Linked DNA regions of Homo sapiens. The protein of the gene in region 1 purifies or fractionates together with the protein of each later gene. This does not show direct contact. Each region holds a gene or a part of one and is shown on either strand. Other genes may lie near its edges. The genes, in order: NAA16 and TCEA1.

Region 1 (3,826 bases):
CAATAAAGTTCTGTATTTATATAACAGTTTACTGTTGAAAATGAACTTTAAAATACATTATTTGATCCTTTAACAACCTTAAGAAATTGGCTGTATGGATTTCTTTATTCTTAACTTAGATTAAATAATTGTCTAGGAAATTAAAAGGCTTATTCAGGGTCGCATCCCTAATAAGAAGCTTATCTCTTGAGTGGGCAAATACTGTGCTTACTGAATGTCTGCTATGTATTAGGCCCTGTGGCAGGCGGTGGGTAAGGATTGCCCTTGAAAATGGTAGAGTTGAGTAGAGCAGTCAGATTTGTAAATATTTAGTGTGAACCTACACATATTTAGTCTTCATTCAGAGCTCTGTTTAACTGTGCCATGCTGGTTTTTAGGGAATATGGAGGAAGAGTATTTCATTAAAACTAAAATATTAATATATACTAACTTTCAGGTTTAAAAAATAACCTGATCTTTTGACTTATATAGAAGTTGAGTATCATCACAAAACATGATTTGTAGGGAATGGGCATGGTTTGTAGGAAGAGAAAGTTCAAGTTGAATGCCAAAAATAATTCATATCCTTTATAGTGTAAAACATTGGAGAGGGCAGCTAAGTGAAAATTGTGACTGTTTAAATTGTTTTTTGGGCTTTTTACAATTTTTTTTTTCTAAAGGTAGACATTATTGACATAAATGTAAAGGTTAATTTTGTGATTTTTGTTTTTAAGCATTTTTTTGAGATAACTGATGACCAATTCGACTTCCATACATACTGCATGAGAAAGATGACCCTTCGTGCCTATGTTGACCTTTTGAGATTAGAAGATATACTCAGAAGACATGCCTTTTATTTCAAGGCTGCTAGATCAGCGATTGAAATATACTTGAAATTGTATGATAATCCCTTAACCAATGAAAGCAAACAACAAGAAATAAACTCAGGTAACTGAATAGGAACTTAAAAGATTTTAAAAGGACACTAAATTTCAGAATGCCATTAGCGTAAACAATACCTAGAAAAATATTAATATATTGTCTGTTGGAGTTGAAGACAAACATTAGATAACTCATATGCCAAAAAACAAAAATGTTGCAGAGAGAGTTAAAAAAAGTGGGATGATATTCTGTAGCTGATGGTTCTAAATTACTTTAATGGAACAACTTAGAATTTTTTTTATTTTTGTCTTCAGAAAGACCAATTTAAGAACTGGGTATGGTGGTTCACGCCTGTAATCACAGCATTTTGGGAGGCCAAGGCAGGCAGATCATTTGAGGCCAGGAGTTCAAGACCAGTCTGGGCAACATAGCATGACCCCTGTCGCTACAAAAATTTTAAAAAGACGAGTTTAGGAAACATAGAAATGTCTGTGGACTAGTTTTTTTCTTTCTTTTTTAAAAAATTGTAACTGAAAATAGCTTTGAGCTCCTTAGGAAAAAATATATAATCTTAAAATTTCTAGTTCCTACTTTATTAAAAATAAGAATATCAGTGAGAATATCTGTACAGTTTTTTATTCACTAGAATGTTAATATCTAGGAATATTTGAGAAATAGTTAGCATGAAATGAGCCTAGGTAACTATCTCAGATATTCCTAGGTAGCTGTTCATTTCTAATATTTATATAGTATTTAGAGATCACAGGTGTTTATATGTATTATCTCACTTATTCTTGAAAGACTTGATACTGAGAAGGACAAAGTGATTTGCCTGGAGTCATATATTGTGTAGGAGGCAGAACTGGGCTACTATTGGTCAATTTTAGTTAATGCAACATTTACTGGCTGTCCTTTGTGTGCCCAATTTTGTTCTAGTCACTGGGGATACACTTTCTAAAAGCTTTTATATGGGTTGCCTCTGCATCCCTCCTTGCCCAGACAAAAAACAGAAAAAAAAAGTATACAGCTGGCCCTCCATTTTTGTGGGTTCCACATGGGTGGAACAAATCATAAATATGTTTTTTTAAATTGCATCTGTACTGAACATGTCCAGACTTTTTTTCTTGTCATTATTAGTATTTCCTGAACAATGCAGTGTAACAACTATTTACATAGCATTTACATTATTTTAGGCATACCTATAGACCATAATATAATTTATGAAAAAGTGAAGTCATTATATGCAACTTAAAGCAAAAGGAAGGTGAAAGATTTAAAGCTGATCTAATTAAAAGTATACAGGAGGATGTACATAGGTTGTATGGAAATACTGTGTCATTTTATATCACAGGCTTGAGTATCAGTGGACTTTGTGGGGGTGGGGGTCATGAACCAATCCCCCACTGATACCAAGGGACAACCATACTAACAGTATGTATTACAGAAGAATATGAAGAAAATGCAAACATTGGCTCAGAATTTTGTTCATTTGGATATTTATAGAAAACTTGTCAGCCAAAGAATTGAAGAAAATGCTTAGCAAGCAGAGAAGAGCTCAGAAAAAGGCTAAACTAGAAGAAGAAAGAAAGCATGCAGAAAGAGAACGTCAACAGAAAAATCAAAAGAAAAAAAGAGATGAAGAAGAAGAAGAAGCCAGTGGCCTTAAGGAAGAACTTATACCTGAAAAATTAGAAAGGGTGAGATGGGTTTTACTATCTTTGTTATTTGGTAAAATTTATGCTATTTGGTTCCGTTCTGACAGTTAACATGATTTATTTAAATCTGTAAGAAGCCATTTGAAATATTTCAAGGTTTTTATAATAGCCGTCAATTATCTTTGAGTGACAGTATACAAATTTTGGCTAATGCAAGTTATACATAGAATTGCAATTGTGGTAGGCAGAGTAATGGCCCTGCAAAGGTGTCTGTGTTCTGGTCCCCCCAGCCTGTGAATATGTAACCTTACATGGCAAGGGAGAATTAAGGTGGGAGATGGAATTTATGGTTGTAATGAATTGACCTCAAGATAGATTAGCCTGGATTGTCCATGTGGTCCTAATATCGTCAAAAGGGGCCTTAAAAGTTGAGGATGCCAGCAGCAGAGGTCAGAATGATGCAATGTGAGGAGGACTCAACCTGCTGTTGCTGGCTTTGAAGATGGAAGGAGGGTGCCCCAAGCTAAGGAGTGTGGGCAGTCTAGAGAGGCTGAAAAAGGCATTGAACGGATTCCCCCTTCGAATCTCCAAAGGAAATGCAGTCCTGCTGACACCTTGATTGTAAGCCCAGTGAGACTGTGTTGGGCTTTTAACCTATAAGAACTATAACATAATAAGTGTGTTGTTTTAAGTCAATAAATATTTGGTAATTTGTTACAGCAGCAATACAATTGTCCATTACATATGGAATCATTTTACCTTATATGTCTTACTAGAAATGTTGTAGCTACAAAGAGATAGCACCTCCAGGATTTTCTCAAGTGTTAATAGTTGTTTTGGGATCAGATTTAAGGAAATATTTAGTTTTCTGGTTTATTCACTGTAAGTCTAGTACAGTTGGCCTTTGAACAACATAGGTTTGAATTTTGAGGGTCCAGCAAAGGATGGTTTGATAATTTTAGAAAGATGTTTGGGTTAAAAAATGTCCAGATAACAGAAGAATTAACTTCTCACCAAGAGCTGGCAGAGAAGTTCCAGATGCCATTGAGAAAATCATTGAGGAGAAGAGGTATCTGCCTGAACAGGTTTTTAATGTAGAAAAAAAGTGCTCTATCACAGGAAAAAATAAAAGCCACAAAGGACATCTATTAGTAAGGAAAATAAGCGAACACCAGGATTTAAGGCAGGAAGGGATAGGCTAACTGTACCATTTTGTGCAAATGCAGTTGGGATTATGACCATGGCTGCCTTTTATCTATAAAGCTACTAACCCCTGAGCCTTGAAGGGAAAAAATAACAGCTGCCAGTCT
Region 2 (3,826 bases), on another chromosome or scaffold:
CACCCACTGCTGCTTAGCTTGGGGAGAAGTTGTTGCTGATACGGGTCTGTTAAGGGGGAGAGGAGGAGGAATACTGGGGCATTTGCTTATTACTATGTAATTGTAAGAAATAGATTCCCTCTAATACATGGATGTTTTCCCTGATTTCATAGTAATGTACACTTTTTTCTCACAAATCTTTTGTTTCCCCACAATTTAATCTGCAAACTACATACCCTGATCTTATATTGAGAGTTAACAATACTGAATTGTTGAATAGTATGACATATAGTATGAATGTTTTCCATTTTCTAGTTAGAAAAAGGGAGGGTGAGTCTTGATTTATATATGGGAGCTTAATTTAATTTGAAAGTATCCAGTCTTAACATGTAACATTTGGATTTAAAGTTTTATATACAGGAATATTTGTTATTTTATACGAATTCATCCTTTTTCTTTTCTCTCATTCTGCACCATGGCTAGTTTGACCTGATTTTCTCCTTACTCTGCCCTTTCTACTTTGATTTCCTGACTGTCTCTTTTATTTTTTCTGCCTAGTTTATTTCCTTCTATCCTCTTGCATATTTGTATAGCAGTCTTCTGAGTGTGTCTGTATATGTGATTGGCAGATTAACTAAATGATTTCTTTGCATTGAAGCCTGAGTCACAGGAGACTAGACAGTTCTTTCTGTAACTTTCTCTACTCTGCTGGAGCAGCCAGAATTTATGGAGTTACGAAAAATGAATTGCCTGCTAGATCAGTTACTTCCTGTGCCTGAGGGATCAGGAATCATCAGTGCAGGAGCACTGTGGGTATCAGGTGAAGCCCAGAAAAGAAGTCTAGCGGGCAGTGAAGTGATCAGATTCTAACGAACTAAACTGAACGGTTTCTTTATGTCAGGCAAATGGGGTTTAAGAAATAGGAATGCAGTTTAATTACCTGGTATTAGAATTTTCTTTTAATCTGTTACAATAATTTGACAATTCTTTATGCCTATTTTTAGATGACTACATTGCAATTGGAGCTGATGAGGAAGAATTAGGATCTCAAATTGAAGAAGATATCCTTTGTGTGTATATTCATAATTGTTTTTTTTAATAAGTAATATTTATTGAACATATGCAAATGCCAGGCACGGTTTTACATGCAGTAGTCCTTCCAATGAATTAGGTGCTCTCATCCCATTTTACAGAGAGAAAACAGAAGCAGAAGAGGATTGGTCATTGTTCTAGATCACACAGCCTGACACTGACAGGGCTGGGATTCCATTGTAGGGAATTTGGCTCCAAGCCCATGACCTTGACCACCACGCTAGACTTTTTCCTTCATGTTGAAGCTGAATGAACTAGAAACAGCGAAGTTTAAAAGGACCTGGCTCTTTGGAAACTGAAACATATAAATCCCTAGTAAAATTGCTTCAGATAGCAGGAGAGTGAAAATATGATTGAGAACAAGAAAGGCAAACCGATAACATAATTAGAAGAGATTACAAAATACATGAGAACATTGGGTGTATCTCGTTGGCAATTTGAAAACCTAAAGAATTTCGCTTTCCTAGCAAAACATGAGTGTCCAAGATTGACTTTATGTACTTGGCAGGACAGGCTGTGTTATATTATGGTGACAACCTTGAAATTTCAGTGGCTTAACACCACAGAGGTTTCTTTCACAGATTAAACTGGACAAACAGGAATGTATTTGTCCTATATGTTCATCACAGGCTAGCTGAGGACTCTGGGCTTTGGGTCATTGTCCTCTAGGACCAGGCAGGTGGATTGGCCATTGTGAGTGGTGATGTGGCAGAAGGTAAAATGGATAAATTGCATACTGGCTTTCAAAACTACTGCTGAGGAGTGACATCTATTACTTCTGCTACCAGCCAGAAAGGTCTCTTGGTGTCACACAACTTCAAGTGGTCATAATTGTTTTAAGTAATCTGCTAGCTTAATTTTTCCTGTTGGTATAGAATTCAAAGTCTTATTCTTCACTTTTTATCTTGATTGTATTGTTTTCTTGGAAAGGAGAGGGACATCTATGTCATTTTATTTGTCTTGTTTTTCCTGTTATTGAAAAGGAAAGTACAGTATTGATGGCATTTATGACATTTAAATTTTTCTGCCTTGTAGATTGAGACTGTAGTGTCTGAATTTAAGTTGTGCAAAAGGGCATGGAAAGCACACACATATAAATGTGAAGACTTCTCAGTTAGGGGGACCTCAGAGCACACACAGTCACCTGAGCTCATTATCCCAGAGGAAGCGTGTTCTTGCTAAGCACCGGGAAAGGGCTCCAGGAGAGGGGTACTGTGTGTGAGTAGGGGCAGGGAGCATCTAGGTGGCTGTGTAACATGAGATTGTCCTGGTTGAGGAAATGGCCTTATTAGGAAGGGAGCTGTTCCAGGGTTCAGCTTTGGCAGTGGCCTCTTCTGCAGAGAAGAAGAGCCTGCTGAGGTAGCTCCTGCTGAGCTGGGGGAGGAGAGGAACCCTCACGGCCATGCTGAATGGTCTCTTCTCAGAGACCCTGTGGGAACTGTGTGACCAGAGAGACTTTAGGATCCTTAGTAGAATTCGGATTTGGGCAAGTAAAGCTTGAATAAGTTCAAGCTCCTTTTCAAACATGTGCTTTCTCATGTTGAGTACTTGAGTTACTTTTTGAAACCCTGTTGACTTGCATACTGCTGGCACTAAACATTTAGGAAATAAAACATGACTAGGCCGGGCGCGGTGGCTCACGCCTATAATCCCAGCACTTTGAGAGGCCGAGACGGGTGGATCACCTGAGGTCAGGAGTTTGAGACCAGCCTGGCCAACATGGTGAAACCCCGTCTCTACTAAAAATACAAAAATTAGCCGGGCATGGTGGCAGGCGCTTATAATCGCAGCAGCTACTCGGGAGGCTGAGGTAGGAGAACTGCTTGAACCCGGGAGGTGGAGGTTGCAGTGAGCTGAGGTCCAGCCTGGGTGACAGAGTGAGACTCCTTCTACCCACCTTCAAAACAAACAACTACTTTACAGTGTAAAAGTAATATCACTATTATTCGCCAATTACAGCTCAAGGAATTAGATATAGTACCTTGTTTTTAACATACTCTAAATTGGAAACAGTTGTCGTGAATTGCTTAGAAATTTCAGGTTTGTTTTTTTTTTTAAGATGGAGTGTCCCTCTGTCGCCCAGGCTGGAGTGTAGTGACCTGATCTCAGCTCGCTGCAACCTCTGCCTCCCAGGTCAAGTGGTTGTCCTGCCTCAGCCTCCCGAGTAGCTGGGACTGCAGGCACCTGCCACCATGCCTGGTTAATTTTTTGTGTTTTTAATAGAGACGGGGTTTCATCATGTTAGCCGGGATGGTCTCGATCTCCTGACCTCGTGATCCACCAGCCTCAGCCTCCCAAAGTGCTGGGATTACAGGCATGAGCCACCGTGCCTGGCCTCAGGAATTCTTATTTTGGCAGAACAGGAAAAAAAAGTGATCTTACTTTTGTAATTTTGCCTTTTTTCCTTAACGGCCTGGTACCTATATATCAAGAAATAAGGAATACAGACATGAAATACAAAAATAGAGTACGAAGTAGGATATCAAATCTTAAAGATGCAAAAAATCCAAATTTAAGGAAAAATGTCCTCTGTGGGAATATTCCTCCTGACTTATTTGCTAGAATGACAGCAGAGGTGAGTATGTGTGAATCTGAGGTTTCTATAATGTGATTCTGTGTTGTGAAGTGTAAAGCCTATTATCATCATAGACTACTATATAAATATTGCATATGTAATAAATTTCCGTTATTCTGATATATTTATATACTAGACAAATACTTAAGGTGATTGTGTCTTTTGTCAGTACTTTGCTCC

What was found.
Region 2: the proteins of NAA16 (region 1) and TCEA1 fractionate together in Homo sapiens (co-fractionation; one large-scale study listed by BioGRID). This does not show direct contact.

What each region holds. Positions count from the first base shown.
Region 1 is NC_000013.11:41,366,726-41,370,551, forward strand, and holds part of NAA16 (N-alpha-acetyltransferase 16, NatA auxiliary subunit), read left to right. Parts: intron 1-713; coding exon 714-927; intron 928-2,364; coding exon 2,365-2,558; intron 2,559-3,826. UniProt on the Homo sapiens protein: Auxillary subunit of the N-terminal acetyltransferase A (NatA) complex which displays alpha (N-terminal) acetyltransferase activity.
Region 2 is NC_000008.11:53,984,183-53,988,008, reverse strand, and holds part of TCEA1 (transcription elongation factor A protein 1), read left to right. Parts: intron 1-983; coding exon 984-1,040; intron 1,041-3,491; coding exon 3,492-3,646; intron 3,647-3,826. Other genes in the region: LYPLA1-TCEA1 readthrough, read left to right, coding at 984-1,040, 3,492-3,646.